7 linked regions of the Homo sapiens genome follow. The protein of the gene in region 1 purifies or fractionates together with the protein of each later gene. This does not show direct contact. Each region holds a gene or a part of one and is shown in the gene's direction. Other genes may lie near its edges. The genes, in order: ACTR2, UPF2, TPD52L2, NDUFA10, ARL1, CEP85L and TRAPPC8.

Evidence for each region.
Region 2: the proteins of ACTR2 (region 1) and UPF2 purify together in Homo sapiens (affinity purification with mass spectrometry; one large-scale study listed by BioGRID and IntAct). This does not show direct contact.
Region 3: the proteins of ACTR2 (region 1) and TPD52L2 fractionate together in Homo sapiens (co-fractionation; one large-scale study listed by BioGRID). This does not show direct contact.
Region 4: the proteins of ACTR2 (region 1) and NDUFA10 purify together in Homo sapiens (affinity purification with mass spectrometry; one large-scale study listed by BioGRID and IntAct). This does not show direct contact.
Region 5: the proteins of ACTR2 (region 1) and ARL1 purify together in Homo sapiens (affinity purification with mass spectrometry; one large-scale study listed by BioGRID and IntAct). This does not show direct contact.
Region 6: the proteins of ACTR2 (region 1) and CEP85L purify together in Homo sapiens (affinity purification with mass spectrometry; one large-scale study listed by BioGRID and IntAct). This does not show direct contact.
Region 7: the proteins of ACTR2 (region 1) and TRAPPC8 purify together in Homo sapiens (affinity purification with mass spectrometry; one large-scale study listed by BioGRID and IntAct). This does not show direct contact.

Annotation. Positions count from the first base shown.
Region 1 is NC_000002.12:65,254,855-65,259,385, forward strand, and holds part of ACTR2 (actin-related protein 2), read left to right. Parts: intron 1-690; coding exon 691-840; intron 841-4,531. UniProt on the Homo sapiens protein: ATP-binding component of the Arp2/3 complex, a multiprotein complex that mediates actin polymerization upon stimulation by nucleation-promoting factor (NPF).
Region 2 is NC_000010.11:11,924,310-11,927,809, reverse strand, and holds part of UPF2 (regulator of nonsense transcripts 2), read left to right. Parts: intron 1-3,500. UniProt on the Homo sapiens protein: Involved in nonsense-mediated decay (NMD) of mRNAs containing premature stop codons by associating with the nuclear exon junction complex (EJC).
Region 3 is NC_000020.11:63,878,565-63,883,095, forward strand, and holds part of TPD52L2 (tumor protein D54), read left to right. Parts: intron 1-4,154; coding exon 4,155-4,256; intron 4,257-4,531.
Region 4 is NC_000002.12:240,011,839-240,016,369, reverse strand, and holds part of NDUFA10 (NADH dehydrogenase [ubiquinone] 1 alpha subcomplex subunit 10, mitochondrial isoform 1 precursor), read left to right. Parts: intron 1-1,509; coding exon 1,510-1,631; exon of another isoform or gene 1,632-4,531. UniProt on the Homo sapiens protein: Accessory subunit of the mitochondrial membrane respiratory chain NADH dehydrogenase (Complex I), that is believed not to be involved in catalysis. Complex I functions in the transfer of electrons from NADH to the respiratory chain.
Region 5 is NC_000012.12:101,397,348-101,401,878, reverse strand, and holds part of ARL1 (ADP-ribosylation factor-like protein 1), read left to right. Parts: intron 1-705; coding exon 706-817; intron 818-4,531. UniProt on the Homo sapiens protein: GTP-binding protein that recruits several effectors, such as golgins, arfaptins and Arf-GEFs to the trans-Golgi network, and modulates their functions at the Golgi complex.
Region 6 is NC_000006.12:118,648,792-118,652,726, reverse strand, and holds the start of CEP85L (centrosomal protein of 85 kDa-like), read left to right. Parts: upstream 1-1,135; 5' UTR 1,136-1,457; coding exon 1,458-1,530; intron 1,531-3,935. UniProt on the Homo sapiens protein: Plays an essential role in neuronal cell migration.
Region 7 is NC_000018.10:31,908,238-31,912,768, reverse strand, and holds part of TRAPPC8 (trafficking protein particle complex subunit 8), read left to right. Parts: intron 1-3,008; coding exon 3,009-3,102; intron 3,103-3,124; exon of another isoform or gene 3,125-3,185; coding exon of another isoform or gene 3,186-3,225; intron 3,226-3,755; coding exon of another isoform or gene 3,756-3,758; coding exon 3,759-4,015; intron 4,016-4,350; coding exon 4,351-4,466; intron 4,467-4,531. UniProt on the Homo sapiens protein: Plays a role in endoplasmic reticulum to Golgi apparatus trafficking at a very early stage. Maintains together with TBC1D14 the cycling pool of ATG9 required for initiation of autophagy. Involved in collagen secretion.

The DNA of each region.
Region 1 (4,531 bases):
TACTCTCATTTTAGGCCAAAATTCAAAGCGTAACTAACAGAATTTCTGGGGTTGTCTTTAGAACACAGACTCAAATATTAGAGGATTTTTTTTTTATTTGTAAAGTCTAGTAATTTTTTTTCTCTCAGTGGGTTTTTAAAAAAATAGTAGTATTTTCTAGCATTTAAGAAATGTAACAATGGAGATTATACCTTTGAGTATCCCAATAATTCCCTTATCATTCGTTAAACAAATGCTATTGTCCTTCTAATATGTGCCAGACACAGTACTAGAAGCTAAAGATAAAACTTTTAAAGACTTGGGGGCATTTCATAAATATGGCATTAATTGTGTGAGCAAACTGCAGGCTACAGGAGTCCAGTACTAAAATAATATTTATTCATTAATATACTTTTGATTGTTTATCAAAACTATCAAAACATTAGTACTCATGCAGTGCTTTTCAAAAACTGACTTTTCTAGTCATTTTACTGACTTACTTATGAATTGTTAATTCTTTTACCCTCTCTGAAACTGAAATATAAATCCTTTTATGGCGGATAAAATCCTGCTTCTGAAATAGTAGGAGCTGAGGATCCACTGCCCATTCTGTTTGTTATTGATGTGACATATTTAATGAGCATTACTAGCTTTTGCAGAGTAGAACTCATTCAGATGTATTATGAACTTATTGCTATTGTTTTGTACCAGCTACTTCTGTTGCGAGGATACGCCTTCAACCACTCTGCTGATTTTGAAACGGTTCGCATGATTAAAGAAAAACTGTGTTACGTGGGATATAATATTGAGCAAGAGCAGAAACTGGCCTTAGAAACCACAGTATTAGTTGAATCTTATACAGTAAGTGTTTCCAGTGTATAATATATATGTGTTTTAAAGTGGACAGCCATGATTATTGGTGTCAGCTTAAGGAGGTTTTCTTAGAATCAGTATTTTTGTCTTGGGTTGTTGTAATATGTATATGTGTGACTTTTAATGTCTCTTTCTACATTAAGTTTCTATTTAATTATTTTAGGGCACCATATAATGCAAATTAAGGCAAGAATCATAAATTACTCTCTATACTAGGATATAATTAGATGCGAGATGTTATTTTGAGATTCTAGTATTTGGCATAGCATTTCTCAATGTATGTTTTACAGAACTTTATTTCCCTGAGATGCTAATAAGCATTTCACAAAAATTAAAAAGGATTACATTGTCAGATGAGTTTGAGAAAGAGTTGATTTCACTTCACTGTAGAACTCAGAGCCTTTGGTATGCTAATATGGGCACAATTAATATAGTATGCGTGTTTTTCAGACTTATGCTCTAGGACTTTTCAGAATTTCATGGGATTAGTGATCTAAGAAACATACTTTGGAAATGGTCATTCTAGAGCATTGCTTTACTAATTCAGTAGGTGGCAGCCTTTCCTGACTTAATATTCTTTAATGAGGTGTTAAATGTTAACTTGAAATTGTAACTAATGAGATTTAGTACCTGGTTATAGTTTATAACACCAGAGGAGTTGATCCTACTTGAATTTTTAATGAATTACCATCTTAAGCCTATTAAATTTGTCTGAGTATAAAGTACTTCCAGGTCTCATCTTTGATCTAGTTATTACTAAAATGAAACAGTAATAGGCAATGAAGGCAAGTATTTTAAAACCATATGATGCATACTAGCTCTACATATTCACAAATATATGCAAAATAGTCATTTTTAAAGTAATTATAAAAAATTTGTTGTTGGCCGGGCGCGGTGGCTCACGCCTGTAATCCCAGCACTTTGGGAGGCCGAGGCAGGCGGATCACCTGAAGTCAGGAGTTGGAGAACAGCCTGGCCAACATGGTGAAACCCGTCTTTACTGAAAATACAAAAAATTAGCTGGGCAAGGTGGTGGGCACCTGTAGTCCCAGCTATTCAGGAGGCTGAGGCAGGAGAATTGCTTCAACCCAGGAGGCAGAGGTTGCAGTGAGCTGAGATCGTGCCACTGCACTCCAGCCTGGGTGACAGAGCAAGACTCCATGTCGGTAAAAAAAAAAAAAAAAAAAAAGTTAAGATAGTGATCCAAATATTCAGTAAACCCCCATTTAAAATTTTTTTAAATTTATTTTTTATTATACTTTAAGTTCTGGGATACATGTGCAGAAAATGCAGGTTTGTTACATAGGTACACATGTGCCATGGTGGTTTGCTGCACCCATCAACCTGTCATCTGCATTAGATATTTCTCCTAATGCTATACCTCCCTCCCCTTGCCGCCCCCCACCCAACAGGCCCCATGTGTGTTGTTCCCCTCCCTGTGCCCATATGTTCTCATTGTCAGCTCCCACTTATGAATGAGAACATTTGGTGTTTGGTTTTCTGTTCCTGTGTTAATTTGCTGAGAATGATGGTTTCCAGCTTCACCCATGCCCCTGTAAAGGACATGAACTCATTCATTTTTTTATGGCTGCATAGTATTCCATGGTGTATATGTGCCACATTTTCTTTATCCAGTCTAACGTTGATGGGCATTTGGGTTGGTTCCAAGTCTTTGCTATTGTGAATAGTGCTGCAGTAAACATATGTGTGCATGTGTCTTTATAGTAGCATGATTTATAATCCTTTGGGTATATACCCAGTAATGGGATCGCTGGGTCAAATGGTATTTCTAGTTCTAGATCCTTGAGGAATCACCACATTGTCTTCCACAATGGTTGAACTAATTTACACTCCCACCAACAGTGTAAAAGCGTTCCTATTTCTCCATATCCTCTCCAGCATCTGTTGTTTCCTGACTTTTTAAGGATCGCCATTCTAACTGGCATGAGATTTTGTGGTTTTGATTTGTATTTCTCTAATGACCAGCGATGATGAGCTTTTTTTCTTATGTTTATTGGCCACATAAATGTCTTCTTTTGAAAAGTGTCTGTTCGTATCCTTTGCCCACTTTTTCATGGGGTTATTTGTCTTTTTCTGGTAAATTTGTTTAAGTTCCTTGTAGATTCTGGTTATTAAGGCTTTGTCAGATGGATAGATTGCAAAAATTTTTTCCCATTCTGTAGGTTGCCTGTTCACTCTGATGATAGTTTCTTTTGCTATGCAAGAAGCTCTTTAGTTTAATTAGAACCCATTTGTCAATTTTGGCTTTTGTTGCAATTGCTTTTGGTGTTTTAGTCATGAAGTCTTTGCCCATGCCTATGTCCTGAATGGTATTGGCTAGGTTTTCTTCTAGGAGTAAACCCATTTTGTAACTTAATCATCTCCAGATTTGCTCTGGAGATTCCTTCCTGAAGTCTTCTTGACAGTTTCTCTAGTTGTCTGATTTTCCATCTACCTGACTATTTTGGAAGAAAGTGGCTGGCACAGGGCAAAAGATAAGCAAACTAGGAATGTAAAACATGTTTTATTTCTTCCTTCTCTCTTTTCTCAAAGAATTTGAGGTAGGCTACAAAAATATATACAAATAGGCTGGGTGTAGTGGCTCACACCGGTAATCCCAGCACTTTGGGAGGCTGAGATACGAGGATCACTTGAGGCCAGGAGTTCATGGCCAGCCTGGGCAATATAATGAGACCCTGTCTCTACAAAAAAAATACAAAAATTTGCCAGGCGTAGTGGCACGTGCCTGTAGTCCTAGCTAGTTGAGAGGTTGAGGTGGGAAGATTGCTTGAGCCCAGGAGTTCAAGGCTCAAGTTTTGAGGCAGAGAGCTAGGATTGCACCACTGCACTCCAGCCTGGGTGAAGGAGCGAGACCCTGTCTCAAAAACAAAACAAAATCCATATATATATTTGATATATATATGCACACACACACATATACACAAGTATAAAGTAATAAGCTGATGAATAAGTGAGGAGGGACATGGGTGGACAAATACAGAACAGGATAAGATTTGGTGCAAAGAAATGGGATGCCTGCAGTTTTAACAGTTCATTAAGGTGATTAGAAAACTTGACCCCATGCTGGCCAGCAGCCAGAGAATGGAGAGAAGCCACACTATCAGGCTTCAAGTGCTTAAGGCAGGAGGTTTTGCTAATAAGATCTGCTGTGTGAAGTTTTTCCAGATATTTTGGGTGATTTCATGTGAACCCACCTGAAGGTGGAGGTGGTTTTTTTAAGGGTATAAGTTTTGGTAACCTTTTTTTTTTCTTTCTGTTTTGAGACAGGGTTTCCTCACTCTGTTGCTCAGGCTGCAGTGCAGTGGCATGATCTCGGCTCACTTCAGTCTCAATCTCCCAGGGTTAGGTGATCCTCCCACCTCAGCCTCCTAGGTAGCTGGGACCAAAGCTGGAATCTAAACAATCATTGTAATTGGCCAGGCGCGGTGGCTCTTCCCCATAATCCCAGCAATTTGGGAGGCCAAGATGGGAGGATCATTTGAGCCCAGGAGTTCAAGACCAGTCTGAGTAACAAAGCAAGACCCCCGTCTCTACAAAAAATAAAATTAGCCAGCCATAGTAGTGTGCATCTGTAGTGCCAGCTACTTGGGAGGCTGAGGTGGGAGAATCCCTTGAATCTGGGAGATTGAGGCTGCAGTGAGCCATGATCACACCACTG
Region 2 (3,500 bases), on another chromosome or scaffold:
CTCAGATAACTCTAATCAAATTGTAATGTAGAAAACTGGCTTGTCAAGACAGTTTAGAGATCTGTTCTTTAGCATCTGTTGAGTATAATTTAAAAAAAAAATCCAAGTTGGAAATGACCTGTAAACCCATCTAATTAGGCACAATAAGATATTAGGTTATTTTTAATTATCCAAACTTTATTAAAGTCCTTTAATTAAGCCTGTTTTATTGCTGCTAAAATGTGGACACTAGCTAGGTTAACAGGCAATGAAAAATGTTCATTTCCTGCTTTTGCATTTTCTTAGAGTAGCTTTAAATATATGCCACAGTGTTCTTGATAACATCTATTCCCTCCTGTCTCATCATCAGAGACCAAAACTGTTAGAATATTTGTATTTCGGTTGGTAAAAAGTAATGCGGTTTTTGCCAATAAAAGTAATGGGAAAAACTGCAATTACTTTTGCACCAGCATAATATCTTGATGTTTTCCATCATCTTCACCTGTTCATATTGCAGCCTAACGTCTCTGAATAGCACGTTTTTATTAATCCCTAACCCCCTCACAATTCATGTATCGCAAGTATAGTGTCTTAGTAATTTGTGTAGACTCACTATGGAGTTGGATGACATAAGGGGCATCCAGTAGGATTTGCCTCCCTCCGTGTACACTCATCCAGGACTGCACTGTGGAAGATGGAGTACAAGACAGGGTCTTTACCTGCACGGTTGTGGTCCAGTAGGGAAGCCGAGTATGGGTACTTGAAAGATAATTCCACCCTCTTCATTTGTCTGTTTCAAAAACCTTGGGTGAGAGTCTGTTAAGGACCAGGCAGGAGATATGTAAGCATGTGTGTGCTGTCATCGACGTGAGCATGTGTGTGCTGTCATCGACGTGCGTGTGAACAGAGGTAAGCCTTTCTTAACCTGGTTACCGGTGTTAGTCACTTTGCAGAGTTCCTTCACTTTCTATTTTCCCTTCCTCCCTCCAATTCCTCCTTGGAAGAATCGGCTACACTTGCCCCTTCTTCCTTGCTCCCACTTGGGTGGCTTACCCCTGCCAAGTCACAGCTGGCAGTGGGAGGCATTGCCCACCCCAGTGGCTATGCTAGAAAAGAGGTTCATTATTGACTCCTGTCACCTTCTCAGTCCCTAGGTCTAGGCAGCTTCTGCCATCACTGGCATCCCCACCTGCCATCTCTTGGCCTCATCTCAGCAGCACTTTGCATTGTAGGCCCTCCTTGTTCTCCCAACAGACCCTTCCTTGGCATCTGTGATTCTGCTGGCTTCTGGGTTTTCCCTTCCCGCGATCACTGTGGCTCCTGCTGCTGACACTGCCTCCTTTCTGCGCTTCCCTGCCTAGGGATGTCTGTGTTCCTTGGGCTCAGCCTGGGCCCTCTTCTCCTTCTGCACTCTCAAAGGAGGTGTCATCCCTCCCAGTGGCCTGACTTCCATCCAGGTCTCCAGCCCAGATCTCACATTTTCATTTCTGACTTTCCACCCCACTGTGACTCAGAGATGGAAGACTCGTGCCCCTGCCCCAGACTCCTCTTCCCCAGGGTCTCCAGTGCAGGGAGAGGAAGCGTTGTCTGCCCTCTTGTCCACAAAAGAAAAGGAAGTTGTGTTATTGACAGCTCCTCCTCCCTCAATCCCTAAATGTAGTTCATTAGCAAATCCTCTGCATTCTGCTCCCAAATGGCCCTCACTCTTGCCTTTTCTATTCTCTGCCCATAGCCAAGACCATGGGTCAAGCCACCATCACCTCTTGCCTGGATTGCTGTTGCTGCCTCAGCCTCCTCATCAGCCTCTCCGTCTCAACCTTCAACCCTTTCCAATTCATTCTCCCGCTATAGACCCAGTGTTCTTTCTAAAACACAAATTTGATATCTGTGTGTGCCCTTCTGCTTAAAATCATCCAATGGCTCCTCGTGGCTTGTAGGATAAAAAGTCTAAACTCCTCAACTTGGTTCCCAAGGCCCTGTGGTGCAGGTGGACATACATTACTGGCTTCATCTCCTGCTGTTCTTTCTCCTGCTGCAGCCTAGCTGACCTTTAGTTCTGTGTTCTTTTTGCCTCCTCTGTGTGGAACAGTCTCCAGCTGTTCCCCTGGAGAACTCCTGCTCCTTCGGGTCCTGCCTTGGTGTTCCTGAGTCTGACATAGGTCAGTGCGGATCTGCTGCCATGACTTATGGTATTTCTGCAGACCTTGTCCTCCTTAAGTGCCGCTTAGCTTGTCTCTATTCCCCATGAGATTACAGGCGATGAGGGCTGGGACCAAGTCTCATGTTGTTTCCATTCTGTCTCCTTCACAGCTCTTGGTGCCTGGCACCTAGTAGGTGCTCAGTAAATATTTGGTGAATGGACAAAAGAACTTTTCACAGTCTGTGTTCAGTCACTGAATAAACGTTCTCATTCCAGTTCTGCTCCCTAGCTCTTCCCTCTGTTTTTCTTTTTTGTAAGAGTCCTAGCTTTTGAGCTAGCCACTCAACCTGTTTTAAGATCTTTTCTTAAAATAGCACCTTAAAAAAAGAAAACCTAACTTGTCCATCAGTCTTAAGAATAGCACTCTGTAAAGTATCACGAATGGAATTTTTATAGTCAATGCTCCTAAAGTATAGGTGCGATAAACATGGTAGATGAACAAACATGGAAACATGAGATTTTACCCTTTAGAGGACCAGATGTTCTTTGCCTTTTTTAAAATTTACATTTTAAGGCTGGTTGTGATGGCTCATACCTGTATCCCAGCACTTTGGGGGGCCGAGGAAGGCAGATCACCTGAGGTCAGGAGTTCGAGACCAGCCTGACCAACATGGTGAAACCCCGTCTCTACTAAAATTAGAAAAATTAGCCGGTCATGGTGGCGGGCACCTATAATCCCAGCTACTCGGGAGTCTGAGGCAGGAGAATCACTCGAACCTGGGAGGTGAGGTTGCAGTGAGCCAAGATTGCGCCATTGCACTCCAGCCTGGGCAACAAGAGCGAAACTCTATTAAAAAAAATCAGTTATTAATATTAGTAATGTTATACAGCAGATAAAGGGAAATTTATTTGGAAACTGATTATAAAGTAGTTTAGGTCTAGGAGCAGTGGCTCACGCCTGTAATCTCAGCACTTTGGGAGGTCGAGGTGGAAGGATCGCTTGAGCCCAGGAGGCAGAGACTGCCAGATCACACCACTGCACTCCAGGTTGGGCGACAGAGCCAGACCCTGTCTCAAAAAAAAAAGTAGTTTAAAAAAAAGATTTTTTTTTTTGAGACGACATGTTGCTCTGTTACCCAGGCTGGAGTGCAGTGACACAATCTCAGTTCAGTGCACCCTCCACCTCCTGGGTTCAAGTGATTCTTCTGTTAGCCTCCCGAGTGGCTGGGATTACAGGTATGCAGTCCACCACTCTTGACTAATTTTTGTATTTTTAATAGAGACATGGTTTCGCCATGTTGGCCAGGCTGGTCTTGAACTCCTGACCTCAGGTGATCTGCCTGCCTGGACCTCCCAAAGTGCTGGGATTATAGGTGTCAGC
Region 3 (4,531 bases), on another chromosome or scaffold:
GCCCCATATGGGTCTCCCTGGACTAATGGCTGCGGCCTTGGAGGTGGTGTGCTCTGGCCAGGCCTGGATCACTTGTCCATCCTGAGTGGGAGTGGGGGCAGCCCCCAGAGACAGACTCAGGAGAGGGGGAGTGCAAGGATGTCCCCCAGATGCCCTGTGCTGCCCAGGGGACAGCTCACTGGCAGTGGGACGAAACCGCTGTCTGTCCAGGGCTCTCTTCCTAGAAGGTCTTAGGAACTCCCAAATGGGTGCTGGCTGGGGTTGCCCGGCCCGGTGCTCTCAAGGAGAGCTGAAGCTAGTTATTGGGTGCAGATGCTGGCTCTGACCCCTGCCCCTTCCTCCCGGGCTCAGCTTCCCCATCTGTCATGGAGTAATAACAACCCAGCCTTCTGGTCCACTGAGGAATGTGTGTGCCTGTGTGTTTGACGCTCTCAGAACAGGCCTGCAGCGCTGTGAGCCTTGGAAGGGGGCCTCACAGCTGCTGCCGCCACCTTGGAGGCCCAGGATGGGACTGAGAAGGGGAAGGGAGAGGTCAGAGCCACAGCTGTTGGGCAGGGACCTGCTGTAGGAAGAGAAGGCCAGGGAGGCGCTGGTGGTGGCCTCAGGCTATGCAGGTGATGCCCATTGTTTCCAGGGCCATCCCAGTTTGGAGGTTCCTGTTTCTAGAGGAGGTTCCCTTGTGACCCCCTCATTTCCACACCCGAGCAATGCTGAGGGCTGTGGGGCCCCCAGGGGCTTGAGTGTGGTTTATGGCACAGCAGGGACTGATCACAGTGGCACCGGGTGTCAGTGGCCAGTGGTCAGTGGCCAGGAACCCTCAGGACCCTCCTCCTTGTGTGGGTGGCATTTACCCACCCACAGGTCACGCTCAGGACCCGCATCTCATTCCGATCCTCCTTGTGTGGGTGGTACTTACCCACCCACAGGTCACGCTCAGGACCCCACATCTCATTCTGAAGGCCGGGCACAGGCGGTTGTTTTCTCTCCAACTTCGGTTTCCCCATCCCCACTCTTAGGGCACAAATGCAGGTGTAGCTTCCCCATGCCCACTCTTTAGGCACAAATGCAGGTGTAGCTTCCCCATCCCCACTCTTAGGGCACAAATGCAGGTGCAGCTTCCCCATCCCCACTCTTAGGGCACAAATGCAGGTGCAGCTTCCCCATCCCCACTCTTTAGGCACAAATGCAGGTGCAGCTTTCCCATCCCCACTCTTAGGGCACAAATGCAGGTGCAGCTTTCCCATCCCCACTCTTAGGGCACAAATGCAGGTGCAGCTTCCCCATCCCCACTCTTAGGGCACAAATGCAGGTGCAGCTTCCCCATCCCCACTCTTAGGGCACAAATGCAGGTGCAGCTTCCCCATCCCCACTCTTTAGGCACAAATGCAGGTGCAGCTTCCCCATCCCCACTCTTTAGGCACAAATGCAGGTGCAGCTTCCCCATCCCCACTCTTAGGGCACAAATGCAGGTGCAGCTTCCCCATCCCCACTCTTTAGGCACAAATGCAGGTGCAGCTTCCCCATCCCCACTCTTTAGGCACAAATGCAGGTGCAGCTTTCCCATCCCCACTCTTAGGGCACAAATGCAGGTGCAGCTTCCCCATCCCCACTCTTTAGGCACAAATGCAGGTGCAGCTTCCCCATCCCCACTCTTAGGGCACAAATGCAGGTGCAGCTTCCCCATCCCCACTCTTAGGGCACAAATGCAGGTGCAGCTTCCCCATCCCCACTCTTTAGGCACAAATGCAGGTGCAGCTTCCCCATCCCCACTCTTAGGGCACAAATGCAGGTGCAGCTTCCCCATCCCCACTCTTTAGGCACAAATGCAGGTGCAGCTTCCCCATCCCCACTCTTAGGGCACAAATGCAGGTGCAGCTTCCCCATCCCCACTCTTTAGGCACAAATGCAGGTGCTGTGAGCGCTTTAGAATCCTCTGCTGCAGGTGACTTTGCTTCAGCGAACCACAGAATGTTCACATGGTTTTATGCATTTGTTATTTCAGGGAAAATCAAGGTTAAAGATGTCTTCAGAATTTGTATTTTTGGGCTGGGCACGGTGGCTCACACCTGTAATCCCAACACTTTTGGAGGCTGAGGCAGGCGGATCACGAGGTCAGGAGATCGAGACCATCCTGGCTAACACGGTGAAACTCCGTCTGTACCAAAAATACAAAAAAATTAGCCGGATGTGGTGGCGGGCGCCTGTAGTCCCAGCTACTCGGGAGGCTGAGGCAGGAGAATGGCGTGCACCCGTGAGGCAGAGCTTGCAGTGAGCCGAGATGGTGCTGCTGCACTCCAGCCTGGGCTACAGAGCAAGACTCTGTCTCAAAAAAAAAAAAAAAAGAATTTGTGTTTTTGAAACTAAATATAGCAGGTCATTAGTTACTTATAACTGGTGTTTTATTAATAAAAGAAGAAAAAATTTAAAAACAGCCATGATTCCAGCTGCACGGAGCCTGGATGGGAAAGTGCATCCTCTGGGCTGAGCACGGTGGCTCACACCTGTCATCCGAGCGGGCTGGGCGCAGTGGCTCACACCTGTCATCCCAGCACTGCGGGAGGCCGAGGCGGGTGGATCACCTGAGGTCAGGAGTTCAAGACCAGCCTGGCCAACATGGTGAAACGCTATCTGTACTAAAAAGACAAATTTAGCAGGGCGTGGTGGTGGGTGCCTGTAATCCCAGCTACTTGGGACGCTGAGGCAGGAGAATCTCTTGAACCCGGAGGCGGAGGTTGTAGTGAGCTGAAATTGCACCACTGCCCCCCAGCCTGAGTGACAGAGCGAGACTTTGTCTCAAAAAAAAAAAAAAGAAAGAAAGTGCATCCTCTGGTAGGCCTTGGGCCGGGGGCGGGCATGAGAGAGCTGCGCTGGGATGCGCTGCCAGGGCACACTTGGTGGGTCACACACTCTTGTCAACTGTTTGGGGGCTGGAGAGTAGTAGCACTCAGCTCACACGGGCCTTCTGCAGGGAGTGGTGGGAGGGCCTGTGAGTAAGGGCTCCGGAAGGCCCATCATTGGGACCTGGTGCCGCCAGTGGGAGCAGGAGGAGCCTGTGCCTTCTCTGGCGCCAGTCATCCCAGATGCCACTCAGGGCTTGGCTGGGTTTGCCAGCTCTCCAGGTTGGCACTGGTAACGCCAAGATGGTCCTGGGAGCCCATCTCCATTCAGCCTCGAGTTCCCTGGCTTCACTGAGGGAGGAGCCGTGATAAGGTGGCTGTGGGTTCGCATTTTGGACTTTGTTATGTCAGAGTCTGCTGTGTTTTGTGTTTATGGTGGCAGCTGGATGAGGGCCAGCGACTTCAGGTGTTGACTGTCATGGTGGGCCCAACAGTATCCCTGCAGCCACAGCATCCTGCCTGCTGCCCTTTGCCTGTCCTGCAGACGCCAAGGCCCTAGAGCTTTGCTTTGATGGGATGTACCCATGTGGGTGGACACTGGAGGGAGCTGGAGGGGATAGAAGCGGGGCCTTCACTAGGGGCCAGGACAGACCCTTGCACTGTGAAAAGAGGCCTGGGAATGGAACTGTCCGATGTTCTGAAGGCACACGGGGCCCCGCCGTCTGGAGCAGGGGCACCTTGCGGGCTGCATGGCCACTCTGTGACGCTCGTTCCCCACAGACGTGGTTGAGCTTGCATTTTCTCCCCTCAGCACAGTCTCATTTGGGAAGAGGAAAGGGAAACTTGCACGCATGGGCCGGTCAGGGCACTGAGAGGCCTTTCTGCTCTGGCACTGCCTGCCAGGCGTGCACCTCAGGGGGCCCGTCCGCTCTAGCAGGCAAATGGGGCGTGTTCTCTGTAGTCAGAGGGGCTGTGAGAAGACAGGAAAGCGAGCTTAGTGGGTATCAGGCAAGGGGGTGAAATTGGGTTGTGAGATGAGAAAGCAGCGTCATTGCAGGGCTGGGGGGCCGAGACTCGGCAGGGTCGCCGAGAGCTCAGTGAGCGAGCAATGCACAGGCGGCTCCTCGCCGCAGGGGCCTCTGGGGGCCGAGGGGCTCTGGGCCTGCACCCCCTCTGTAGACACCTGGCGAGTGTCCACCCCTTGGCCCAGCTCCTTTCCTCAGTTTTCCTCGGGCGTGCTCCCAGTGCTTTGTTTGCTTGGCTGTGGGTGGTGACCCGCCCATGCTGTCTGGTTGATTTAACTGGTGTGTCTTCCAGCTACAAGAAGACTCAGGAAACTCTTTCACAGGCAGGACAGAAGACTTCAGCTGCCCTGTCCACAGTGGGCTCTGCCATCAGCAGGAAGCTTGGAGACATGAGGTGAGACGCAACCCTGACTCTGCTGCCCTGAGACCTGGCCAGGAGTGAGGTGAGGTGTTGGAGGTGCTACAGGAAGCCTGCCTGGAGATCAGGGCTCAGATGCACTGGCTCAGGGATGTGGCCATCCATCATGGCCCCGACCAGTCTGTGTGCAGACCCTTGCCTGGGAGGTTCGTCCATCCCCGTTGGCTGCTTTTCTGCCGTTGCTGTGTTCTTCAGGGAGGGTTGGCTGCCAGTGCTGTTGGGTAACTTGTGGTGCTCGGGGTTGGTGAGGG
Region 4 (4,531 bases), about 170 Mb from region 1:
GAGAGCAGACTCGGTGAAGGGAGGTTTCACCTCAGCAGCAGGAGAGACCGGCCTGCTACCGGTCCAGCAGTCAGGAAGCAGACCCGAGGTCCCGTGTGCTCTGCCTGGCTGCGGGTTTGTGTTTGTATGCTCAGGTGAACGGTACTCCACTGGCAGCCTCCGTCCTTTGCTTTGTCACACCTCCTCCTGGGTGGTCTTCCTTGTTCTTTAGCTCGTGCCGTTCCTGACCCTGAGCCAAAGGCTCATCCCACAGTTGCCTCTAGAGTGAGGTTACTAGGAATGCTCACTGGAACTTTTTTTTTTAATTTAATTTTTAAAATTTTTATTTATTTATTTTGAGACTAGGTTAGGAGACTGGCTAATGTTTGTATTTTTGGTAGACATGGGATTTCACCATGCTGCTCAGGCTGGTCCTGAACTCCTGGGCTCCAGTGATCTGCGCCCACCTCGGCCTCCCAAAGTGCCAGGATGACAGGCGTGAGCCACTGTGCCCAGCCCATTTCCTTTAAAGCAAAATAGTTGTCTTTCTGTGGACCCTAGCATGGCCATCTGTCACTTCTGGAAGGTTCCACACGTGAAAAGCTGCAGAGGGGATGGCTTCTCAGCATGGCCTCTCCACATGCACTGGCGTGCACTCTCTGTTGGCTTCTGGGAGGTCGGGTGTGCATGAGCATGTGCAGGTGCAGAGTGCTCTGAAGAGCGGCAGGGTTCCCTTGGGTGGCACGGGCCCTGCGGGTGCCCCCTGGATTATGCATTCTGTGTAGTGATCACTTTAGGAGAATTATTCCTCAGCCTTAGCTGCTTTCAATTTCATGTTGTCACTAAATCTGACTCAGTAGATACTTCTGTGCAGCTGATTATACTACTGAAACGGGATAAATGCAGCTTGATGATTTTCAGCTGAGTTATTTGAAAAATAAAGTATTTAAAGCTGTTCTTTATTCTTCAGAGAAGACCAGACTCTTGTATCTATTATTACTGTGAAGAAATATAGTAGCATGTATACTATATACCTGCAACATATATACTGCAAGTATATGGAATATATTTCAGTTCAAAGATCACTGAACTGTGACCTCCATCTTGCGTGACCTACGTCTTGCCTCAGGAGCAAAAGTGAACCCTTAAATGTGGCTAAGATGTGCTAAAGATCTGTCTTTTAGGATGATTAAGGTCACAGTTTAAATGCTGCTGTTTTACTCTGTGTAAGTAGCTTAATTTCTCTGGGCCTCAGACCTTTGGTTTGTAAATACAGTGGAGGCGACAAGCCCTGTTTTCAGGGTTGTGGGCACCACAGCTGCTGTCTGCACATGCCCCGTGGCACCTGGAGCACAGTCACATGCCATGTGTGTGGTCAGTGCTTAGAACTGTGACCGAGATAGGGTTTGTAGATTGGTACGTGGCTTTGAGAATTGCGTGTATGTTTGCCCTTTTATTCAAGGAGGAGTGTGTTTTGGAAACCCGTGTGGGGACTGGTAGGTGACAGCGCCCCTTTCTCCTATGTGCCAGGTGTGGACCACTACAACGAGGTGAAGAGCGTCACCATCTGCGATTACCTGCCCCCCCACCTGGTGATTTACATCGATGTGCCCGTTCCAGAGGTCCAGAGGCGGATTCAGAAGAAAGGAGATGTAATGCAGTTTTCAATCAAAGGCCAAGCATCTCTATTTTGAATGTAGATCAGCACTAAAAGCCCTGTTTTAATAGCATTTATACTAATTCCTACCAGTCCTCACGAGGAGGGTGACACACACCCTGTTCCCACTTGAGAGAGGGCATCTGCAGGGGTGGAGGGGAGACCCCATGGCTCGGCCTGGTGCCACAGCCTGCGGGCCTGCCGCCCACCAGTGCTCTGCGGTCCCACTGTGGTCCCCGAGTCCCCTCAGCTGTTTAAACTTGGGAGGCTGGTGAGGGCCTCCTGGCAGAGCGTCCTCCATCCCTCTGTCACGTACCTTTCTGTTCTCTGATGAGGTTTTTGTGTCCTATCGTTTTCTTCCACATTGGAAGCAATTTCTAATATCCCTCATCACTTCAATCTATTTAACGCAAATCGTGCCTCTCCCCCTTTTTCTTACTTACCAATTCTAGAACAGTAGAGCAGTGATATCCACACACATCCATTTACTCTTTGTAGTTTTCATTGGATCTTAATTAGGTGGCCTCGAAGCAACGCCTTTTGAAGTGACCCTGTGGCCGTTGGTAGCTCTGTTGGCGGCTTGATGGAGGATCCTGAGATGAAACAAAGACCGTCTTTGCCCTGTGGCGAGTTCTTTGTTTTTTTTTTTTGAGACAGAGTCTCGCTCTGTCACCCAGGCTGGAGTGCAGTGGCACGATCTCGGCTCACTGCAAGCTCCGCCTCCCGGGTTCACGCCATTCTCCTGCCTCAGCCTCCCAAGTAGCTGGGACTACAGGCGCACGCCACCATGCCCGGCTAATTTTTTTGTATTTTTAGTAGAGACGGGGTTTCACTGCTTGTTTAATACTATGTTATTTTTTCCTGGAGGAGAATATGGTCTCCTTTTTGATACTGTGATGAAAATGCAGGGCTACCTGCCTGTTCCTCACTCTGATGCCCATCCTCAGTGCCGGAATTCTTGTAGGTGCTCAGGAAATACCTCTCTGGATGGTGGGTTCTTGTCAGGGCAACAGTAAAGCTCTGGTTATTTTTTGCTGCTCCTGAAAGATCCATGGGACTAACTTTCCTTCTCTGTTGCAATAGTAGAAACAGCGAGATGTCTATGTATGCCTTTCTATTGCCACTCTGGAACTTTTATTGTTTAAGCATATGCTTGTAAGTATGTTGTATAGCTAGACTTCTAAGAACCTTCCATCAAGTGGCAAAAGGAGGGAACTGCAAGTTCAAAATGTTTGTTTCTCAGTGGACTAACTGGACACCTTTGCTTATTATGCTGACATTTATTGAGAAAAACAAAGTCATACATTTAACATTCTCTAGATAATTCTTTTGTTATCTGGGAAAACAGTATTTCAAAAATAATTCTGAGGTCTAAAGTAGAGCTGTCAACTTCTTAATTTTTCCAAGTAAAGTCTTCAATACTGTCATCAGGTAAAATTACCCCATTTTATAAAAGACATCACATTATCAGTAAGTCTGTGTTCTTATTTTGATTTTTATTTCAATGCAGTCTGTGTCTCAGTATTGCACCTTTTGGGAATAACTGATAGGAATATCCGAAAACCATTTCTAGATTCTAAGAAAACAGTCAAAGTGATCAATAACTACATATTTTATCAAGTAACTTCAGGTCAGATTTCTGAGATGGTTGTGTTATGTTGCATGTTATGGGCTTATATTACACTAGAGTTTCTTTTATAATCAGTTAACATTTAATCTTATTCTACTTGGCACATAGCTAATGATAGAGATTTAGAATCATATCACCTCTTTTATACTTTTGTTGATTTCACTCACTCCTCTAATACAGAGCACCTCCTATATGCAAGGCGCCTGTGCCAGGCACCTAGGAGGCTGCAAAGATGAACAAAGATGGTCTCTGCCCAGACACCAAGTCCTTATTGGAAAATAGAACTCCCAATTACTGCCTTTCCCCCTTTTGACAGAGCAATGAAGTGCAGCATTGCCTGTATCATCCTTTCCCTGTGCCCCGTCGCATTACTGGAATTAATACATGTTCAGTAAATATTCTTTGAATGATAGGGTTTTTCTTATTTTGAACAGCTTTAATGAGGTATAATTTATGCTCCATAAAATTCACCCATTTTAAGGGTACGACTGAATGATTTTGGGTAAATTTACCAAGTTGTTGCCACTCTTGCCATAATCCAGTTTTAGAATGTTTTCATCATTTTGTAGGTTGAAACCGCAGGCCTATTCATTTCTTTCTTCCTTCCTCTCTCTCCTGTAAGTGTTGATTGAGCATCCACCCTGTCCTAGACCCTGCTTGGTGCTAGGGACATACCAGTGAGCAGGGTGGATGAGGTCCTCACCCGTGAGCTCATATGCTGATGGGGGAGACCTACAGCAAGCAAGGAGATAAATAAATACATCAAATAGAGGTAAATGATGTGAAGAAAACAAAACGGGCTGAGAAGATAGTGTGAGACTGTAAGGAGTTTTAAATTTTAAAACTTGCTACTCATAATTAGATATTCAAGTTTCTGAAATTCGCATAGTGCATTTCAGATGATGAGAGAGGTGACAGCCGTAGAAAGTGGGAGAAGTGGTTGCGGGGAGATGGGTGAGCGATGGAGGTGGCGAGCAAGTTGGAGAGATGCAGGGAGAGTCAGGTGACAAGAAGAGAGTGTGCTGAGGACAGATGGCGGACAGACAGGCCGCTGCCCCCAATTTTTGGTGCTCTTTCATTCCTGCACTCAGGCACGAGGCAGACAGGAAAGACAGGCAGTGCTGCTTCGTAACAGGCATCTTTCTTGCCCTAAGTATACATCTTAGAATGTGTGGAGAAAGTCACGCTATGGGAGCACTTGGGCAGGCTCAGGTGTTCACTGTAGTAGAAGGAGAATGACTCTAGCTGATGTTGGGACCCTTTGC
Region 5 (4,531 bases), on another chromosome or scaffold:
ACTGTTAAATAAAATCACGTTTAAAAAGTTTATTCCTCTTAAGGGGTGCCTAGTTAAAGATTTGTTTAAGAAGATGTAATGATCAGGTCTGTGTACAACTTTTCTATCAGTATATTTAGTGATTTCATAGATTATAAATAAATTTTGTCAGCCTGAAGTCTGAATGAATTCATTTGGAAACTCCCTGGTCCTGTGAGTCAATGTTTATCAACATTCTTTTTTTTTTTTTTTTTTTTTTTTTTGAGACAGAGTTTCACTCTTGTTGCCCAGGCTGGAGTGCAATGGCACCATCTCAGCTCACTGGAACCTCTGCCTTCCTGGTTGAAGTGATTTTCCTGCCTCAGCCTCCCGAGTAGCTGGGATTACAGGCACCTGCCACCATGTCCAGCTAATTTTGTATTTTTAGTAGAGATGGGGTTTCTCCATGTTGGTCAGGCTGGTCTCGAACTCCCGACCTCAGTTGATCTGCCCTCCTCAGCCTCCTAAAATGCTGGGATTACAGATGTGAGCCACCGTGCCCAGCCAATGTTTATCAACATTCTTTTGACTCCATCACATCTGAGGGATATGGTACATATATCCACCAGAAACAGTGAATCATTAAGGCATTGATTCTAACATGTGTGGGACAGAATTGGCAATTGATATGTCAGTTTCTTCCTTAAAACAATAACAATATGTTCTCCCCTTTTAAATTTTCTCTAGGCCATACTGGAGATGTTACTATTCAAACACAGATGCAGTCATTTATGTAGTAGACAGTTGTGACCGAGACCGAATTGGCATTTCCAAATCAGAGTTAGTTGCCATGTTGGAGGTAAGAAAACGTAACCACTTTAAAATGTGGGGCAGTCATTTACATATTATTACATTGAAGAATAATTAAAAAGAATGCAGGGGTTGTTCCCTCCATCCTTTTAAAATTATTTTCTTTTATGGAAATGATTTTCTATTCCAAAAATACAGTTGAGGAGGGTTGGAGACAAAACAACAACAAAAATTAACCTCGTAACTTCCTCTTCAAGCCAGATTGCTTGATTTTCCAGGAGGTTCAGAAGAGCTCACTTAAACAAAAGCATCTATTCTAAGTCACTTCTTTGATGTGACTTTTAAAATATGTCTTTTTATTTTTAGCTGTTTTAGAAGGATTCAAGTTCAGAGAAATATGTATTTCTGGGTTACTGGCACAATGCTGGCCTCACGTTTATCGTTTTTTATCCTTCCCAGTGTTTACAGTGCTTTTGACCTTCTTTCTGTTCTTTGGACACGAGCTTGCACACCTGGCTCAGGGCCTTTTGCACTTGCTGATCCGTCTGCTTGGAATACTATTCTCCAGCATCTTTGCATGGCTGCCTTCCTGACGTGTTTCTTCCCACATCTCTTCCCCAGAAAGAAGTCTTATTTATTCTCTAATCCTTTACCCTTCTTTATTCTTTATACCGATATTGTTTCTTTTTTTTCTTTTTCTTTTTCTTTTTTTTTTCTTTTTTTTTGTAGAGACGGGGTCTACCTATGGTGCCCAGGCTGGTCCCAAACTCCTGTCCTCAAGTGATCCTCCTGCCTCGGCCTCCTAGTGTTGGGATTACAGGTGTGAGCCATTGCACCCCACTTACTGTTTTTTTACATTATTTTTAAATGTATTTGTTGGCTGGGCGTGGTGGCTCACGCCTGTAATCCCAGCACTTTGGGAGGCCGAGGCGGGCAGGTCACCAGAGATCATCAGGAGTTTGAGACCAGCCTGTCCAACATGGTGAAACCTCATCTCTACTGAAAATACAAGAAAATTAACCGGGCATGGTGGTGTGTGCCTGTAGTCCCAGCTACTTGGGAGGCTAAGGCAGGAGAGTCACTTGAACCCAGGAGGCAGAGGTTGCAGTGAGCCGAGATCGTGCCCCTGCACTACAGCCTGGGTGACAAGAGTGAGACTCTGTCTCAAAAAATAAAAATTAAAAAAAAATATATTTGTTTACTTATGTATCTCTCCCTCTAAAATGTAAGTTCTTTGAGTTTACCCTGATAGGAGGAACAATGTATAGTACTTAATTAAGAATTCAATACATCTTATTCACTGAAGTTAATAAGATCATATATTGGCTAACTGATCAAATTCAGAGGATGCATTAAATAATCCATTTTTAAAAAATGAAAAAATAATCAAATGTACTATGATAATAATAAAATTGCCCTTGCTCTGGAAAATTAGATGGATAAGTTTCTTTCTCTTGTCAAAAACTGGATTCTGAATTGTTTAATCAAGGGATGTTTAAATATAAGTTCTAGGCCAGTTGATACCTAGGTAAAAGCATCCTCAGACGAGGGGACTATGTACTTTTGAATTCTTTTTTTTTTTTTTTTTTTTTTTTTTTTTTAGACAGAGTCTTGCTCTGTCGCCCAGGCTGGAGTGAGTGGCGTGATCTCCACTCACTACAATTTTCGCCTCCTGGGTTCAAGCGATTCTTCTGTTTCAGCCTTCTGAGTAGCTGGGACTATAGGCTTCTGCCACCACACCCGGCTTATTTTTGTATTTGTAGCAGAGATGGGGTTTCACCATGTTGGCCAGGCTGGTCTCGAACTCCTGACCTCAGCAGTTTGCCCGCCTCCTGATCTGCCAGCCTTGGCCTCCCAAAGTACTGGGATTACAGGCATGAGCCACCGCGCTCAGCCCAGGACTTTTGATTTCTTGAACTACTGACTTAATGGCTTCCAAGTTATAAATTGCAGACTTAATAGTTTTAAACATTTGGTTAATTTTTTTTTTTTTACATCATAGCATTATATTTATTATAAGAGCTTCTTAGACCAAATTTAAATGTAAGGATAAGGTTTAATTGCCTTGGGTATAATAGGTTTTTTAAAGAACAGTTTTATTTAGGTATAATTCACATGATATAGTGTATTTTTATCATATAAAGTATTGCTTAAAAGGAATGGATTATTGACTTCAGTTTACAATTTTTGAGTTGTGCAGGATTGTTGTTACTTGCAGTGTTAGGATTTGACTTATAAAGTCTTACAGAGAAAGAAGTAAAAGTTGGATTCTTTCTTTAGGAAGTCACTTTTAATTCATCAATAAATATCATGTTATGTTAAGTATGGGCCAAGTACGAGTCAGGACTGTTAATGTTAAAACATATAGACACAGGCCAGGTGTGGTGGCTCACGCCTGTAATCCCAGCACTTTGGGAGGCCGAGGCAGGTGGATCACTTCAGGTCAGGAGTTTGAGACCAGCCTGGCCACCCATATCTACTAAAAATACAAAAATGAGCCGGGTGTAGTAGCGCACGCCTGTAATCCCAGCTACACGGGAGGCTGAGGCAGGAGAGTCACTTGAACCCAGGAGGCGGAGGTTGCAGTGAGCTGAGATAGTGCCACTGCACTCCAACCTGAGTGATGGAGTGAGACTCCATCTCAAAACAAACAAACAAAAAATATATAGTATAGACACAAAAGCAGTTTAGGTTTCAACTTTTTTTTTTTTTTTGAGACGGAGTTTCACTATTGTTGCCCAGGCTGGAGTGCAGTGGTGCAATCTCGGCTCACTGCAGCCTCCACCTGCCAGGTTCAAGCAATTCTCCTGCCTCAGCCTCCTGAGTAGCTGGGATTGCAAGCGCACACCACCACACCCGGCTAATTTTTGTAATTTTAGTAGAGACGGGGTTTCACCATGTTGGTCAGGCTGGTCTTGAACTCCTGACCTGGTGATCCACCCACCTCAGCCTCCCAAAGTGCTGGGATTACAGATGTGAGCCACCGTGCCTGGCCTTTCAACTTTCCTATACACAAAAATGAATTCTAAATGGGTAAATAATTAAATGTAAAAAATGAAAATTATAAGAACATATAAGGAATTCAAAAGATGAGATTTAATTATATTAATGTAAACAAAACTCCCCCAAAGCTCAGATATGGCAAATATAAACAAGATTAAGATAAGAAACCAGGCCTAACCAGAAGCCAATGACTAAGGATTAGTGATCTGAATCATAGCAAGATCTTTTGCAAAATGAGCAAAAGGCAATTCGTAGGGGAAAAACATTGCTAATAACATTTGCATTTGTTTTTAAAGAGACAGGGTCAGCAGGGCGCGGTGGCTTATGCCTGTAATCCCAGCACTTTGGGAGGCCGAGGCGGGTGGATCATGAGGTCAGGAGTTCGAGACCAGTCTGAGTGACCAACATGGTGAAACCTCATCTCTACTAAAAATACAAAAATTAGCTGGGCGTGGCAGCGGGCACCTGTAGTCCCAGCTACTCAGGAGGCTGAGGCAGGAGAATCACTTGAACCCAGGATGCAGAGGCTGCAGTGAGCCAAGATTGCACGACTGCAACTTCAGCCTGAGCAACAGAGCGAGACACTGTCTTAAAAAAAGAAAAAAAAAAAAGAGACAGGGTCTCCCTCTGTCCCCTAGGCTGGAGTGCAGTGGCACAACCAAAGCTTGTTATAACCTTGAGCTCCTCTCTCTGCTTCCTTTTTTGTTTGTTTTTTAAAAAAATTTTTGTAGAGACCCCTGTGTTGCTCAGGCTGGTCTCC
Region 6 (3,935 bases), on another chromosome or scaffold:
AATCAGATAAATTACAACACGGATGTGGTAAGTGATAGAACACACACCTAAATCTAATTTAACTTCCAAGAATTTTAAGTAGTATTTCCCAATTAAAATGTCTTTAAGGGAAAAATGCAAATATGAGGCCTTTGTTAGCAAGATTCCAGAACAGGAAAAGCGGAACTCAAAGCCTCTCTAGTTAAGCGACCTGCGTTCCGACTTACCTCTGAGTGATGGGCCTACTGCAGAGCCCGCCTCCCACCACAGTGCTGGCCCAGAATTTTTTATACGAACTAGTTCGTAACTAAACGTTGGAAGCATCACCATATTGCCAGTGAGAAGTAAGATTTAAAAATAAAACGATGCTGTCCCTTTTCGCCCTTCCTTAGGACGTCTCCTCCTGCACTAAGGGTTCAGGTGAAGGGTGGAAACTGGCCAAGAAGAGGAAGAACGTGAAGGAGTAGGGGGCAAGGAGGAAAGGGCTCCCTTTACAGACTTTGGTGCCATTTTTACTTTCTGCTTGCTAATCTGAAACGTTGTGCGATTACAATGACGGCCCCTCTCCCCCTCGGGTACTAATTACCCCCGGGCCTTTTCCGGTGCACATCCCGGTGCTATATTCTGGTGCCTGTGTTGCCCCCACGCCCCCATTAAATTAGTAAAGGAAAACCACCCCTTTTCTGCCCCTAAAGTAATCTATAAACGAAGGAATACAGATGAGGATTTAAATCCCAATCCTAATTCCAAGGGAGGCTGGAAGCCCCCTCAGCCGCGCCCTGGCTTGGCTTTTTCATCTCGAGCGGTTGTGACGCCAGGGGCAGGTCTTCCACGTGTCTTCACAGAGGTGCCCGGAGGGAGGGCGTGAGGGATTACCCAAGGGAGGGGCGAGTATCGCAAAATAGGCCAAGTCGCTGCCCTCTACTCAACTCGCAGGGCGGGAGGATGGAGACAGAGGGATGCGGCGGGAGGGCGGGACAGCCCAGTCGCCGCCAAGGAGGCGAAGCGGGGTCGGGGTAGCTCACCCGCCCCCCGCAGTCCCCGCCCCCCGCAGTCCCCGCCCCGCGCGGCGCCGCGCACGCCTGAAGTCATTGCCCGAGGCCCCGCCCCCTCGCGGCCCCAGCCCCGGCTCTGGCTCTGCCGGCGGAGGGGGCGGAGAGAACCCGCAGCTGCAACTTCGCCTGGAGCCTTTGAGCCTGGGCTCAGCCGGGGATCTAGCAGCCGTCACCGCCGAGTCGCCGCTTCCCCGGCGCGGGCCTCAGCCCAGCCGGCTTGGCCATGGCAGGCGCCGGCAGTGCGGCGAATCTGGCCCCTGCGCTCCCCGCCCGTAGCTGAGCAGCCGTTAACCAGCCATCCCGCCTTTCCTCCTGCCCGTGTCGCCGAGGCCCACGCTCCGCGCAAGTTTCCGCCGCCGAAGAAGCAGGAGGACGGACGTGAGGAGTCGGGCGTCCCTGGCCCACCCGGCCCTCTCGCCCGCGATGTGGGGGCGCTTCCTGGCTCCGGAGGCCAGCGGCCGGGATAGCCCCGGCGGAGCCCGCAGCTTCCCTGCCGGTAAGGAACGGGACAGCGCCCCGGCTGGGGTGGGGGTCACGGCCGACCGCGGCGCCTCGGGACCTCGCCGCCGCTCCCCTCCCGCCTCAGGCCTGTCTTACCCCGGCCGCCTCCCCGACGCCGCCGCGTGCCCAGTGTCCTCCCCGCTGTCAGCACCCGGGCTGACATATGGCTTGCCGCGTCCCAGGCGCATCAGCCCCGCATCCCGTCGTCCCCGCCGCTCCTCCTTGGGCTGCAGCCCCAGCGCCCCCAACTTCCAGCTCGCTTGGGCCCCCGCGGGTTGGGCTTTATTGTCTGCCCGGTTTTTTCCTTTTACTCGTGGGGTGTGTGACCTGCGTGATAACGGGGCTTGCCCGTTTGCTCGCGGGGACCCGGGCGGGAAGGTCGCTGCGACAGTGCTGCGGCGGCGGCCCGGGCGCGTCTCGGAGGGGCCGCAGTTCCGCGCCCTCCCGACTTCTGGTAGGCGCAGGCTGGGGTTGGCTGTGCCCACGCCCGCAGCCGCTACTTTTAGGGCGCGTTTTCGGGAGGGAGGATGCTGCCAGAGATGCGGCCGCTCTCAGCCACCCCCAAGGGAACTTCAGCCCCTCGGAGGAACCTGGTCGCCGCCCCGCAGCCCCTGCGGCGTAAGAGGAGGGCGCGTCCTGCAGTAGCCAATGGACCATTGAGCAACCGGGTTACGAATCCGTTTGGCTTTCCGTGGCCCCTTCAAGGAAAATTAGGGGTTTGCTGCATTCCGTATCTGAAGGGGTCTGTTTGTATCGGACAGCCATTTCATGCTTGCGTCGCTCAGAAGTTGTGTAGGAGCCACAAAATTAGGATAAATCCTCCCCTAACTTGGGATAAAAAATAAGTCTTGGGTTGCCTGTGATATGTTCTCTAAAGATGATGGTCTTTCCAGGCACTTTTAATCTTGAGTTTTGAGGCCTTTTGAGAAACTGAGTTATATGGACATTCTGCGCAGAAAAAACAATGCCATATATACATACGCAAAATTTTCCCTACAATTTTAGCTGTTTCTGGGACTCCTGTTAAGTAACCTTGCTCCACAAAGTGTTTGAGCTCGACTTGTGTAACTTAGAGATATTTTTGCATACATTTCCAAAGCTGTTATTTACAAAACAAAAAAGCAGAAGCAGCATTTGGAAAGGGGTCTTTTGATGGTAATATTTTCTGCTATTTAAAAAAAATCAGGCACTGACCGAGTCACTAGTATCAGGCTATTGAAATTTCGAATAATGCAATTCTTTGATAGTTTAGATATTTGTGATGTGTGGTTTTTAAAAAGACATATGTACATTTTAAAAAGCCAGAGTTAGATTTGAATCATTCACTTAAGTTTGGTCCTGAAACACTTAATGTATGTTAATGAATGATTTGAATCATTCACTTAAGTTTGATCCTGAAATTTAATGTAGGCATGAATTTAGTAAAAAGCAGTATTAAGTAGGGATTTTTTTTTTCTAAATTGTATGTTATTTGTCCTAAGGAGACAGTTCAGAGGTTTCCCGAGTTTACAGATTATTCACAAATCCTGTCATCTAAGTAACTTCAGTGATTGAGAAGCTACTTCATTATCCCTAGGGGCTGGAGGGAGTGGTTTCAGTTTATCTGAAAATGTCAAAAGCCATCTGTAATGTCTTTGCAATCTAACCTATTAAAATTTATTCGTGATAATAGCAGCTTGTTTGGAGGTATATCACTGAGGCATGGTGTCTATTTTTCATTGTTTTCTAGGAAGAAGAGAACATTTTAGTATTTAAAGTTAGGTAACGAAGGACTTTGTTATGTTGCAGCCTCTAGAGAGACATTTGCTATGGCATAGAATAATAGTGGAAGAGGATACTTTGTAATTACTACCCTAATTGAAGAAATTTGGACAGTATAGCTGTACCAAAGTATGTATTTTATCTCAATTTGTCAGTAATAAACTATTGACAAGTCAGGACATGCCTTTGTAAAGTTTTTTTTCAGTTACATGCTGAAATAGTAATGTAATTATTTATTGTGTTTCTTCCCTTTTTGAGCAAATATAAATATTTAAAATTATCTTAGATAATTTTAAGTTTTAAAAAGTTCTACCTTAGATGAAAAACTTGTGTTGCTTCTTGTGCAAGTGAGCAGATGGTGAAGGTCAAGATAATGACCTCTGAGTTGATTCATGTAGGGACCTTTTTTCCTGATAATTGGAAGGAAATTTTTATTTTTGAAATATTGTTCAGTATATCTTTTGAATAATTTGAGCAATTATTCCAGCCCTAAAATTGGACTTGTCTGAAAACAAAGTGTGAAGGCAGGGATAAGTAAATAATTTCTGGTATTAAAATGAGTTTATCTTAATATGTGGATTAATTCAAGCTGTCCTGAAACTGGTTTATTTGTTTATACAAATATATAACTAGACTAAA
Region 7 (4,531 bases), on another chromosome or scaffold:
TTTCTGACTTGTCTGTTTAATTCATTATGAATGCCTACAGTCAATTCTTTATTATCTACATGCTCTGGGGTTGCTCCCTACATTTTTCTTTTTCTTTTCTTTTTTTTTGAAACAGAGTGTTGCTCTGTCGCCAAGGCTGGAGTGCAGTGGCACAATCTCAGCTCACTGCAGCCTCCACCTCCTGGGTTCAAGCAATTCTCCTGTCTCAGCCTCCTGAGTAACTGGGATTACAGGCGTCCACCACCTACCACCATGCCCGGCTAATTTTTTTTTTGGAGACAAAGAGTCTCGCTCTGTTGCCCAGGCTGGGGTGCAATGGCGCGATCTTGGCTCACTGCAACCCTCCACTTCCCATGTTCAAGCAGTTCTCCTCTCTCAGCCTCCCAAGTAGGTGGGACTACAGGCGCACACCACCACGCCCAGCTAATTTTTGTATTTTTAGCAGAGAGAGGGTTTCACCATATTGGTCAGGCTGGTCTCGAACTCTTGACCTCAGGTGATCTGTCCGCCTCAGACTCCAAAAGTGCTAGGATTATAGGCATGAGCCATCATGCCCAGCCTCTTTCGTACCTTTTTAACATGCTTTTATAGCCACCTTCAGGAACTCATACTTTTTAGGTGGGTGGGCATTTCCCTCCAACTTTCCGTTGATTTCCCTTCTTTATGTACTCTCAGGAGTTACTGTTTTTTAATTACTCCTTTCTTAACCTCGAGTTCTAGAATAAGATTGATTGTCCTATTGGCTTAAGTTGATGGGCGTTTGATGTTTTGTCAGACTTCTAAGGTACAATAGTATGCCGCTTGGTAGTAGTCAAATGCCAAGTTCCTATGCTTAGTTCAGATAATCGAGAGTCACTGTTTTTTGTTTAGAAGAAAATTTTTTTTTTTTTTTTTTTTGAGACAGGATCTCGCTCTGTCGCCCAGGCCTTGGTCTCCCAAAGTGCTGGGATTACAGGTGTGAGCCATCATGCCGGCCTAGAAGAAATTCTTTTTTTTTTTTTTTTTTTTTTTTGAGACGGAGTCTTACTCTATCGCCCAGGCCGGAGTGCAGTGGCATGATCTCGGCTCACTGCATGATCTCGGCTCACTGCAACAGCTGCCTCCTGGATTCAAATTATTCTCATGCCTCAGCTTCCCGAGTAGCTGGGATTACAGGCGCCCGCCACCACGCCTGGCTAATTTTTGTATTTTTAGTAGAGATGGGGTTTCACCATGTTGTCCAGACTGGTCTCGAACTCCTGACCTCAAGTTATCCCCCTGCCTCAGCCTCCCAAAGTGCTGAGCCACCACACCCGGCCAGAAATTTTTTTTTTTTTTTGAGACGGAGTCTCACTCTGTTGCCCAGGCTGGAGTGAAGTGGCGAGATCTCGGCTCACTGCAACCTCCACCTCCTGGGTTCAAGCGATTCATTTTTAGTCGAGACAGGGTTTCACCCTGTTGGCTAGGCTGGTCTTGAACTCCTGACCTCAAGTGATCCACACGCCTCAGCCTCCCAGAGTGTTGATATTACAGGCGTAAGCCACAGCGCCTGGCCTAGAAATTCTTAAGTAAATGGAAAATATATTTATATTGTTCAATTAAACTATATTATGCACTCTGTGTGTGACATTTAAAAAATCAATTACAAAGCTTATGTAATTTTTGATCTTCTGATATAAGTATTGTTTAATCTGTTTATTTGCTTTATTTTTCTGTCTCATAAATGGAATCTTTAAATCTAAATGTAGTGCTATCATGGTATTTTACTGACTTTAGTATTGAGGTGATTACTGACGTTCTTTAAGATAATGCTGGGGAAAAGCAAAGAAGTACCAGTTGGATGTGAAGGAACTTTATTTTTAAAAATGGTCTTTTAGGGGCCATTCTAAGAATAAGAACAGTACTGAAAAAAATACACTTTAGAGTTCAGTCACCTAAGGTTGTGAAGGGGAACATGAAGAAGATTGTGCAGTATGAGAACTTTTAGCAGAAAGCAGAAATATCAGAAATCTATGCCTTAGCATCCTAGAAGCTCAAAGTTGGAGAATAGTTTAGAGGTTTTACATCCAATGCTTGATCTAATGCTTTAATTTCTTTAAACTTACGAATGACTGCGTCTGTTGACAGTACTCACTGTATTCTTATTAAGTGACCTATTGCATGTCTGATCACCCAAAAATTCTCTCATTTTGCTTAAGGATCAATAAAAAATTCTTGACCTTTGCTTGTACGCTTGATCCTTTGGGAGTGACTATGTTAGTTTTCCATTAAGACAACTTTCAAAATATAGAAGGATAATTCTCATGTCCTCTTTTATATTTTTCCAGTCTAAATATGCCTAGTTTCTGCAACTCTTTCTCAAGGAGTGGCTTCAGACTTTCTTGTCCTGGTCACTTTCTTCTTGAGTTCTAGTTTATGTAAATTCCCTCAAAGTGTGACACTCAGAATAATACATCATATTTACTGGTCTTGTAGAGTAGTCTGGGTATTTTTAGTTTAAGTGTTTTTTTGTTAACTGAGAAACCAGTTCCTTTGCACAAATAAACGTTGCGTTAGATATTTTTCTAAAACACTTCAGTATATTCAGAATTCACTCCAACCTGCTTACACTGTGACCCAAAGAATTTCATATCTGTGCCTCTCTTCTTTCCCCGTCTGACTCTAGTAGTCCATCTCTCTTGCCATTATTCCTTACTTAAGAGGCATAAGCATATGTATGTGCTTATATGAACACTCGTGTATATACATATCATATATAAGTAGATATCCTGAGAGATAATTTGAATTAAGAAGAATTAGGATAGTAGCTTGAGTGTGAAAGGGGATTTAAGAATATAGTAGGTGTGAGTTGGAGTGATAGAATAAGATCCATGGAAGAAGTTATGAATTTGGAGGACGAGAAAATGCTCACTGTAGCAAATAAATGAGGCCAACAGTTAGCAGAGTAACCATAGTTGTTGATGGATTTGATAGTATATTAAGTATGATTAAGTATAACTGCTAATGCTTTTTAAATTTTATTTTGATAGGAATCATATGAAGATGGCCCTTGTACTATAACTTCAAATAAGAATTCTGATAATAACTTGCTTTCATTGGATGGATTAGATAACGAAGTCAAAGGTCTTGATATATTTTCTCTAAGTTTCTCTTTTGATTGAAAATATGCACTGTTGTCAGATCATGCTAACCTTTATAGATAAAAGATGGGGGAAATTTTTCATAATACAGAAAGATATTGGGCAGGTTAGTTTTTCTTCTGAAGATTTTACTGAGCTACTTGAGTTTGTTTTTGACACTTAAAAATTTGTTTTATATGAGTAGTGTATAGATTTCTTTTAAAATATTTTGTAGAAAGCAAGGGAAGATGTGATGCACAGCATTAATTATTTAAAAATTTACATGATTTTGAGAGCTTTATTTCTGACTTTATGATTTTTGTAATGATAACAAATTTTTTTTGTTATATTTTTTCTTACGGCTTAGTTGTACTATTTAAAAGTCATTCTTTATATTATTTAAAATAAAGTATTTTTCTCCATTTCCTGGTTTATACCGATTTTCAAATTACTAATACAGGTACCAAAACAAATATTAACTCAAGCTCATTAATTTTGGGGCTGGGGGATGTTACTGCTGTTTTATCTTAGACATTTACCTATACTGAAAGATAAAGGATTTTAACATTCTGCTTTTTTTTTTTCTTTAGCAGTATGGTAGTATTAGCACTGTTTTCTGTTGCATTCTGAGAGTAAAAGAAATAATCTCTTTTTCAGTAGATGGCTTACCAAATAACTTTAGAGCTCACCCACTTCAGTTGGAGCAATCCAGTGACCCTTCTAACAGTATTGATGGCCCAGATCATCTAAGATCTGCTTCATCGTTACATGAAACAAAGAAAGGAAATACTGGAATAATTCATGGTGCATGTTTAACACTTACTGATCATGATAGAATTCGACAGTTTATACAAGAGTTCACATTTCGGGGCCTTTTGCCACATATAGAGAAAACAATTAGGCAATTAAACGATCAGGTAAGGTTTGATTTTTTGGATTAGTATTTTAAAAATTTAAGTAAATAGTAAATTTAAGAATTATTAAACGTATTTGAAGTTTTGTTTTATTTTCGTTTTAAGATAGGCCAATATTAAGACTTCCCAAAATTACTATCAATGATGAAATTCTGTTCAACTCTAGAAGAGGCTTATTCATTTTCAATAGGATTTTGCCAGCATATTGGACAGTTTTCTTTAAATCAGTTTTATTAAAATGAACATTTGCTATTAAAGCTTTTTAGTTAAAATTTTTTTATGTAAAGGAAAAATACTAAATTCTTTGTTTGTCAACATATTTAATCTCTTTTTTAAAGCTAATATCAAGAAAAGGTTTGAGTCGATCTCTATTTTCTGCAACTAAAAAATGGTTTAGTGGCAGTAAAGTTCCAGAAAAGAGCATTAATGACCTGAAAAATACATCTGGCTTGCTGTGAGTAAAGTGTTATCATTTTTGTTTTTCCTCTGTTTAACTCTCTGACTAGTGTTTGATTGTAT